Linked DNA regions of Homo sapiens: region 2 is linked to region 1. A link means that fine-mapping ties the variant in region 1 to the expression of a gene that starts in the linked region. Tissue or cell type: monocytes after R848. Region 1 holds a variant in brackets; the other region holds the start of a gene. All regions are shown on one strand. Distances are from middle to middle.

What was found. PIP is the estimated chance that this variant, and not a neighbour inherited with it, causes the effect.
Region 2: it holds the start of FEM1B, and the variant in region 1 is fine-mapped to the expression of FEM1B in monocytes after R848 (Quach 2016, PIP 0.95).

The regions. Positions count from the first base shown.
Region 1 is chr15:68,180,799-68,185,058 of GRCh38, forward strand. It overlaps PIAS1 (protein inhibitor of activated STAT 1), which reads left to right. Exons shown (of 14, transcript NM_016166.3): 12 at 414-556; 13 at 2,832-2,869. LOC105370871 (a long non-coding RNA gene) reads right to left here. Exons shown (of 2, transcript XR_932396.3): 1 at 2,470-4,260; 2 at 1,500-2,353. Among named protein-coding and RNA genes, the nearest start is that of CALML4, 22 kb to the right of the region's middle. The variant C/CGTGTGTGTGTGTGTGT (reference allele first, on the strand shown) is at 1,692.
Region 2 is chr15:68,275,350-68,279,349 of GRCh38, forward strand. FEM1B (fem-1 homolog B) reads left to right here and starts at 2,396. Exons shown (of 2, transcript NM_015322.5): 1 at 2,396-3,316. The coding sequence starts at 3,069. RefSeq lists enhancers at 2,392-3,293, 3,036-3,235 and a silencer at 2,676-3,005.

The DNA of each region.
Region 1 (4,260 bases):
GGGCATACGTATGCTTCTTAATAGCCAATACTCTGGTGTTGTTTTAAAAGGGTTTCCGACTTTCATTTGATGTAGGTATCTTTCACTCATATCCCGTTAAAGTGGCTCAACTGTACCTTTCTCTTGCATTTTGAAAGCATAGGTGATGATATTCCAAAGGCAATGTGAGGTTTGTGAATGTTGGATACCATTGCATCTGTCCACTTCTTCCTGTGGCCTCTGTTAAATGCTATTATGTATACAAATTATTTTCTCATAATTGTGTATAATCTAAATTATACATTGCTTTGCTTGGTTTTGTTCTTATTTCCAGCACTAAACCGAGGGTTCATTGTGAGATACAACCCCTTTTTTTGTTAACCTTGAGAGTTTAACTGGCTAATGAAAACTATGCCAATCTTTCCTTCTTCCAGCATTTTAAGTCTTCCACATCAAGCATCTCCAGTATCCCGCACCCCAAGCCTTCCTGCTGTAGACACAAGCTACATTAATACCTCCCTCATCCAAGACTATAGGCATCCTTTCCACATGACACCCATGCCTTACGACTTACAAGGTGAGTCACTGGTTCTTCTACATTGTCACATAGCATTATGAATGCCTTTGATCTATATAATTCTCTTCTAGGTGAATCTAAGGAAGAACTGGAAGACTGAGCCAACAGGGCCTTGGACCCAGGGAACTGAGAGAAATAATATGCCGTTGTTATAAATACTGACCCAGTTCGTTGATTGTACTGTCATCAGTAGCCAGTGTTTTACTCCCAGTGGTAAAACTAGTGCAATAATCTTTAGTTTTTGTGAGCTCCTGAGTACTCTGCAAATTGTTTTTGAATGACTGCTAGTATGTGGGTTTGAATTTTGGTATTTATGAACATTATTTTTTTTTGCCGTGGGGAACGGAGTCTTGCTCTGTTGCCTGGGCTGGAGTGCGGTGGCACGATCTCAGCTCACTACAACCTCCGCCTCCCAGGTTCAAACAATTCTCCTGCCTCAGCTTCCCGACCGAGTAGCTGGGATTATAGGCGCCCACTACCACACCAGGCTAATGTTTTATATTTTTAGTAGAGACAGGGTTTCACTATTTTGGTCAGGCTGGTCCTGACCTCGTGGTCCTCCTGCCTCGGCCTCCCAAAGTGCTAGGATTACAGGCGTGAGCCACCACGCCCAGCCCTGTGAACATTATTTATTGTACCCTGACTTTAGTTGTAATGCAACAGGCATTGTGGGTAACTATGTTGTATTATGTTTTAGATAATGGTGAGTTGAGACATTTGAAAGTTTTAGTTTTTATTCTAATGAATTTGATCCTTCTTAAAAATTTTTTTTTTAATTTTGTGGGTACATACTAGGTGTATACATTTATCTGATCCTTCTTTTTAAAAGCTGTTTGAAATGTCAGTATACTCATTTATATATTTTGAGTTCATAATAATCATTTATATTATCAAAAAGAATTGTTTTTATATCTTTGTAGCATAATAATTTGAATATTAGTCATATAATCTAAGAACTTTTTTTTATTAAAAAAGCCATATATGCTCATTGTAGAAAATTCAACACAGAAACATAAAGTGAAAGTTTCCCTCTACCTATCCCCCAACCCCATTCCCGGGAAGTTACAGCTAGTGTGTGTGTGTGTGTGTGTGTGTGTGTGTGTGTGTCGGAGTTTTGCTCTTATTGCTCAGGCTG[C/CGTGTGTGTGTGTGTGT]GTGTGTGTGTGTGTGTGTGTGTGTGTCGGAGTTTTGCTCTTATTGCTCAGGCTGGAGTGCAATGGCGCGACAGGCATGTGCCACCACGCCTGGCTAATTTTGTATTTTTAGTAGAGACGGGGTTTCACCATGTTGGTCAGGCTGGTCTCAAACTCCCGACCTCAGGTGATTCGCCTGCCTTCGCTTCCCAAAGTGCTGGGATTACAGGCGTGAGCCACTACGGCCAGCCAGTTACAGCTGCTCTTAACGGTTAGATATCTTTCTATACCTTTTTTTCTACATGTATGAAACGCACTGTCACTATCAAGAACAACAGTGCTATGCATTTTGTAAGCCTTCGTGTTGTAATCGGTTATAATGTAGACAGTGAGTAGATGCCCAGAGTATCTGTGGTGTTGTAATATATTTATCTATAGCTGCGTGTTTTACCTTTCCCCAAGTTTAGATATCATAATGAAGCATTTAATTCATGCTTGTTCACTTGCTCTTCATCGCATTACACACTGGGTGATCTAGAAAAGAATGTTAATTGGAAGGGGCCTCCTTGCAGTGAATCCTCAGCAGCCAGGTAGCAGAACTACTCCTTCTTATGTAATAGTAGCCAGTTTGCAGGCACTCAAACCTCTTCTCCCCTCATGCCACTGCAGTCTGTCAGTTGAATCTGATAGCAAATGAGCAAATTTAAGAAAGAAAAATCAGTACTACAACTTACTTAACCTAACTCTTTCAACTTCAAACTTTCTCACCTGCAAAATGAGGGCAAAACTAATTACATACCTCATGAAGTGCTTGTGAGGAGTAACTTAGAGCAGATTGAAAGTTTCCTTAAGAGGAGTCCAGAGCATTTGTTAAAAGTACTATGCCCGTTTAAGGATCAGTGTTAGATCTGACAGAGTAGTAATGGCCCCAGTCCCCCAAATGGGGTCACGGAGAAGACAAATCATTGCCAAAGCTTAGTTTTCAGCCTTAGTAATCTAAAGAAAGGAGAGACGTAAAACGTTTAGCTCAACTCTTCATGTTTAAATAAAATTCTGAGTGACATAGCATATAAGACTTGTATTTGTTTTTGAAGTATTGGGGCATTTGGAAGAGTTTTTCCTTCTTTTTTTTTTAAACTGAAATAATTTTTTCTTCCACAGGATTAGATTTCTTTCCTTTCTTATCAGGAGACAATCAGGTATGTTATGAAAAATTTACTATTATTTTAATTGTACATTAAAAATACAGTCATGCGCCACATAATGACATTTTGGTCAATGACAGGCCATATATGCATTCCATAAGATTATAATGGAGCTGAAAAATCCCTACATCAATTATAGCCATGGTAACATTGTAGCACAAGGCATTACTCACATGTTTGTGGTGTTGCTGGTGTGAACAAACCTATGCTGTCAGTCATGTAAAAGTATCACACGTATAATTATGTACAATATAACGATAATAAACAACTCTGTTACTGGTTTATGCATTTACTATATTTTTTATTGTTATTTTAGAGTGTACCTCTACTTTTTTTTTTTTTAAGTTTGCTGTAAAACAGTGTGCCATGTTATTCCAGGACAGCCTCATACATCCCAGTTTGCCACATCTCTTGATTGCATCATTTCCTCTTGTGCTTGATGAAAATCTTGTCTTGTTTTGTTCATCATGGCCCCTAAGCATACAAAATCCACAGCTAATGTTGCCAGTAAGAGGCCACATCGAGTGACTGACATGGAAAAAAATTAAGTGATTAAGGACGATGAAAGTGGAAGATCAGTGATAGTTATTGCTCACCAGTCAGGCAGTCCCATTCTACCATAGCTACAGTCTTAAAGAACAAGAACAAAGTGATAGAAGCTGTTAAAGGATCTGCTTTGTTCAAGGCAACAAGACTAACAAAAATTTGAGAAGGGCCTGTATCAGATATGGAGAAACTTGTTAGTGACCTGGATTGAAGACCAGACACAGAAACATATCCCTCTCAGCACCATAATGATCATGGCCAAAGCAAAAAGTTTGTTTGCAATGCTTAAAGAAAAGACTGGACCCAACTACAGTGTTAAATGTACTGCTAGCTCCGGGTGGTTTAAACGATTGAAGAATCATTATTCATTATGTAATATCAAAGTGAGTGGAGAGTCTGCAAATGCAGATGTGAAGGCAACTGAAGAATTTTTGGAAACTCTAGATAAGCTGATTATGAAGGAAGATTACTTGCCAGACAAATTTTCAATACGCATGAAACCTCCCTATTCTGGAAATAAATGGCTGAAAGGACTTTCATCCATAAAGAAGCCAAGTCAATGCTAGATTTCAAGGCTTTTAAGGACAAGATAACAGTCTTGCTTGGGGCCATATTGCAGGCTACAAATTGAAACCCTTTGTGATCTGGCACAGTGAGAACTCCAGAGCCTTCAAGCATGTCAGCAAGCACACACTGCCCGTGTACTACAGGAGCAATAAGAAGTCATCGATGACCCAGCTTTTCTTCCAGGATGTCCTCCCGAATTGCTGTGCCAGCAAAATGGAGAAGTACTGTTGAGAGAGTAACATACTTTTCAAGATGATGATTTTTGTTGATAA
Region 2 (4,000 bases), 94 kb after region 1:
TATCCTCTCTCCAGATTTGCACAACCTGACCACAGAAACGTCACCCTCTAAGCCCAGGTAAACAAGCAACTAAATAGTCTCCAGTCAGCCAATAGCTATTAAGAAACCAAGGGAGCCCAGAAGCCTATACGAAGCAACTTTGATAAACACAGAAGAAAACAGCAGCCCAAACCTCCTGACTTTGGGCTGCTGGAGCAAAGAGGTATTCCCATCTTGGGATGGAGGCCACACAATGCAAGTTCTGAGCCCCTCTCTAGCTTGACCCTTGGAGCAGTCACCCCTTGTAGTACCCATCCAGTTATACCACCAAACTGAGGTAGAGAGGGCACGAGGAAGAAGGGAGTCTCTTATTCAGCAATGAGTCTGGATGAATCAGGTCTCCCTTAGAAAACAAAACTGGAAGAAGGGGCCTGTGTCTGGACTTTTTTACATCACCTTCTTCAGAAAGTTGGTTCGGAATAGAATGTAGAATGATTCAGGAACATAATAGGGTAAAAGGCTATGAGGAGATGGTTTTTCTAAAGAGCCAGGCACTCCTCCAGGTCAGCTTGTGCCCAGGTAATCAAAGTGTGTTGGCAGAGGAGAGGGAGGGTGGTAGGGAGACGGAGTTAGAGATATGGAGAGACAGAGAGAGATAGAAAGGCAGAGAGGAGACAGATGGTAGATGAGGTGCATGCTTGCCGTATGGAGCCAGAAAAGGAAGTCATCACACATCTGAATGTGTGAATCCGAGACCAAAAAGCCTGGGTCCCTGTCAAACACTGGGTTTTTTCATGACCCTGAAGTCCCCAAATAAACCAGCCAGCTTCCCCCACTTCTCTATCAGCTATTTCAGAGACGCTACCAGTAGAATCTTACCTTCAGCCCTTATTGCCAATGCTGTTTTTGTTTATGGTAAGGAGAAAAATAACTCGTGTTTCTGTAGGGATCTGCAATAAGTGGGTAAAGCTGAGCTGTAGAATGGAGAGAATTTGAGAAGTGACCCACACCTCCACCAATAGCTGCAATGGAAGTGAGGCCTTTACCTCCTAGAATTGGAATGGTGGGGTTCAAATAAAATAATGTATGTGAACTTGTTGAGCCGAGCCCAGTCCCTTGGAGCCACATAAATGCATTTGTTCTTTCTCTATGGTAAATTTTGTCCTTTGGGGAAGGGAGGAAGAGGGAGGAAGTCACTTTCATATTGAGTTTTTTGAGACTGTCCCAGAAGCTTCATCACCTACCATTCACTCCTACCATCCTAATCCAAGGCCTGTCCCCCTATCTACTCTTGCCTTCCAGAGTTTATTCTCCATACAGCAGCCAGAGTGATCTTTTTAAAAAACACAAATAGCATCTTGTCACTTCCCTCTTTAAAACCCTTCAAATGCCCCCATCACAGAGTAGACTTAAACCCTTTGCTATGGGTTATTAGGCCCTAACGTGTGTTGCATCCTCTGACTTCATCTATCATTCTTACTGTGGCCCACTCTGCTGCAGCCACACTGACCTTTCTGTTTCCGAGCTCACCAGACTGTTCCCTCCTCAGGACTTTTATATTAGCTGTCCCCTTTGCCTAGAATACCGTCTGTTCTTGTCACTTGTCATAGAGGTCTTGTCTGATCACCCAAACTAAATGAGTGCCCCCATCATTCTATTTCATTTGCTTCAGAGCAAATGGTAATGATACCAGTTCAACTGATCTTGTCTATCATTTGTTGACTTATTTGTTCCATTACTGAATCCCTAGTGCTAAGCAGAGCCTGGCACGTAGTCGACCTCTAATATTCATTGGATAAACGATCGTTTCAAATCCTAACAACAATCTTGTGATGTCTGTGAGAAAACGGAGGTTCTGCCGGCTCAGGATGAGATTCCTGCTCTGTCTGAACGCGGGACTCGCTTTCCTTCCCAGGATACCTCGCTCCTTCCACCGCGAGCGCAGCTCCCCTTCGCTCCCATCTTTCTCTCACACTTAACCCCTTTCTCCGGGAAAGTCAGGCCGTACTTCCAGTCCCTTCTCAGAGCCTGGTGTTGTGGCTCTCAAGCCCTCCCACATTTCGGGAACTCAGAAACGCCGCCCTTTTCCTGAAATGGACCCTCCGAGTACGCGCAACCCCTTCCCTAACCCCGGCTCAGGGGCAGAAGCAGGACCCGCACCGTCTATAGTAAAATAGGGTGGTCTCCTTAGCCCATCAGCTTAGCGCCCTCACTCCGCCCCCACTCCCTGGCTGGAGACCCTCAGGGCCGTTTAGGGGCCAGGAGGAGGTTCCAGGAGTCAAGGACATTGAGGACATCCAGGCCCAAACGGGATGGGCCAACTACGCGCAGCAGAACCTTTCTCTACCGGGCCCGCGTGTGCCCGCCGGTCGGCTTAGGCGGAGACACCCCACTTAGCGTCCCTCCCGCTCCCGCCCTCTCCTCCCGGCCCTGTCTGCGAAAGCTCGTCTTCCTCCCCGCCCAAGTTCCGGCGCCGCTCTTGCGGGAGCGTTCCGCATCGCCCCGGGGGCCCCTACGCGAGGATCTCCGGGGCCGTTGGCAGCGCCTGGCACTTCTGAGCTCGGCGGACGAGAGCCTGCAGGTTTCCTCCAGTCAGGGACGGCGAAGGGCGGAAAGCGCAGGAGGAGGCAGTGTTAGGCCTTAGGCCGGGTGGGCCGGGTCAGGAGAGACGCGCCCATCTTTCGCCATCCGGGGTGCGCGAGGTCCTCTCGGGACCCGGCCGGCGACCCGTAGCTCGGGCACGCGCCTGTCGCATCCCGCAGGAAGGAGGGGTCCGGCCTGAGGCCCGGGGCGGCGTCCGCCATGGAGATCCCCTCGGTCCAGGGCCGGCGCCTGGGACCTGGCGGGCGGCCCTGACCGCCTTCCTCCCTGCGCGGGCTGGGTCGCGGACGTGCCCTTCGCGGCACTCGGCCTCCTCTGCGTCTCCGCCTTCCCTGGGCCGCACTGCTGCCTGGGCGCGGCGGCGGCGACGGCGCCCTGTTGAATGGGCTGTGAGGGCCCAGGTTTAAAGCGCTGGCGAACGCGGCCTCCGGGGGCGCACGGCAGCTGCAGCGGTGGCGACCAAACGGGTGTTGGAGTTGGCGGCGGCCATGGAGGGCCTGGCTGGCTATGTATACAAGGCGGCCAGCGAGGGCAAGGTGCTGACTCTGGCCGCCTTGCTTCTCAACCGGTCTGAAAGCGACATCCGCTATCTGCTTGGCTATGTCAGCCAGCAGGGAGGGCAGCGCTCCACGCCCCTCATCATCGCAGCCCGCAATGGACACGCAAAGGTGGTACGCTTGCTCTTAGAACATTACCGGGTGCAGACTCAGCAGACTGGCACCGTCCGCTTCGACGGGTAGGTACATCCCAAGCCAGCCTCTCTCCGACGCGCGCGGACTCGTTAATTCACGGGCCCTCCCCTCCCTCACCCTCTCTTACCCTCTCTTCATGTAGGTACTCACTTCTCCCCTTTTTGTACCACCTCCTGCCCCACTAATGCCCACTTCATCTTCCAGGGCTAATAATCCATCCCATGTTTTGCTGCCCGTCCTCATCAGCCCCTACCCCTCATTCCCTCTGTGGGAAGATAACCACACCCTCGGCCTTGAAATCTAATAGTCGTCTTCTCTACTAGATAGTCTGTGAACAAGCCATTTGGAGGAGGTGGCTGCCTTTCCAGGTTTTACTTTTAGTGGAACTGGTGATGTAACTGATCAGAAATTAAGGAGGTCAGCGGTTAACATTGAAGAACTCCGAAAGAGTTATTTGGGCATCCATTTTTACTCCCTTCAAGTGAGTGGTTCCGTAAAACCTTCAGTGGGCTGCTGGGCTTTAATGTCAAAATAAGCACCTAGAACCAGCAGCAGCTGCAGCATCATGAGGGATTGTCACGCAGCCAGACATCTCAAGACATGATTCTGATTCCTCCACGTTGCTCGGTGTAGATATATTGGCTACTAAGATGGCATTGGACCTGATGTGGGAGATGATGCCATTCTTAAATTACATCTTATCCCGTGATGTTGTGGGGAAGCTTGAT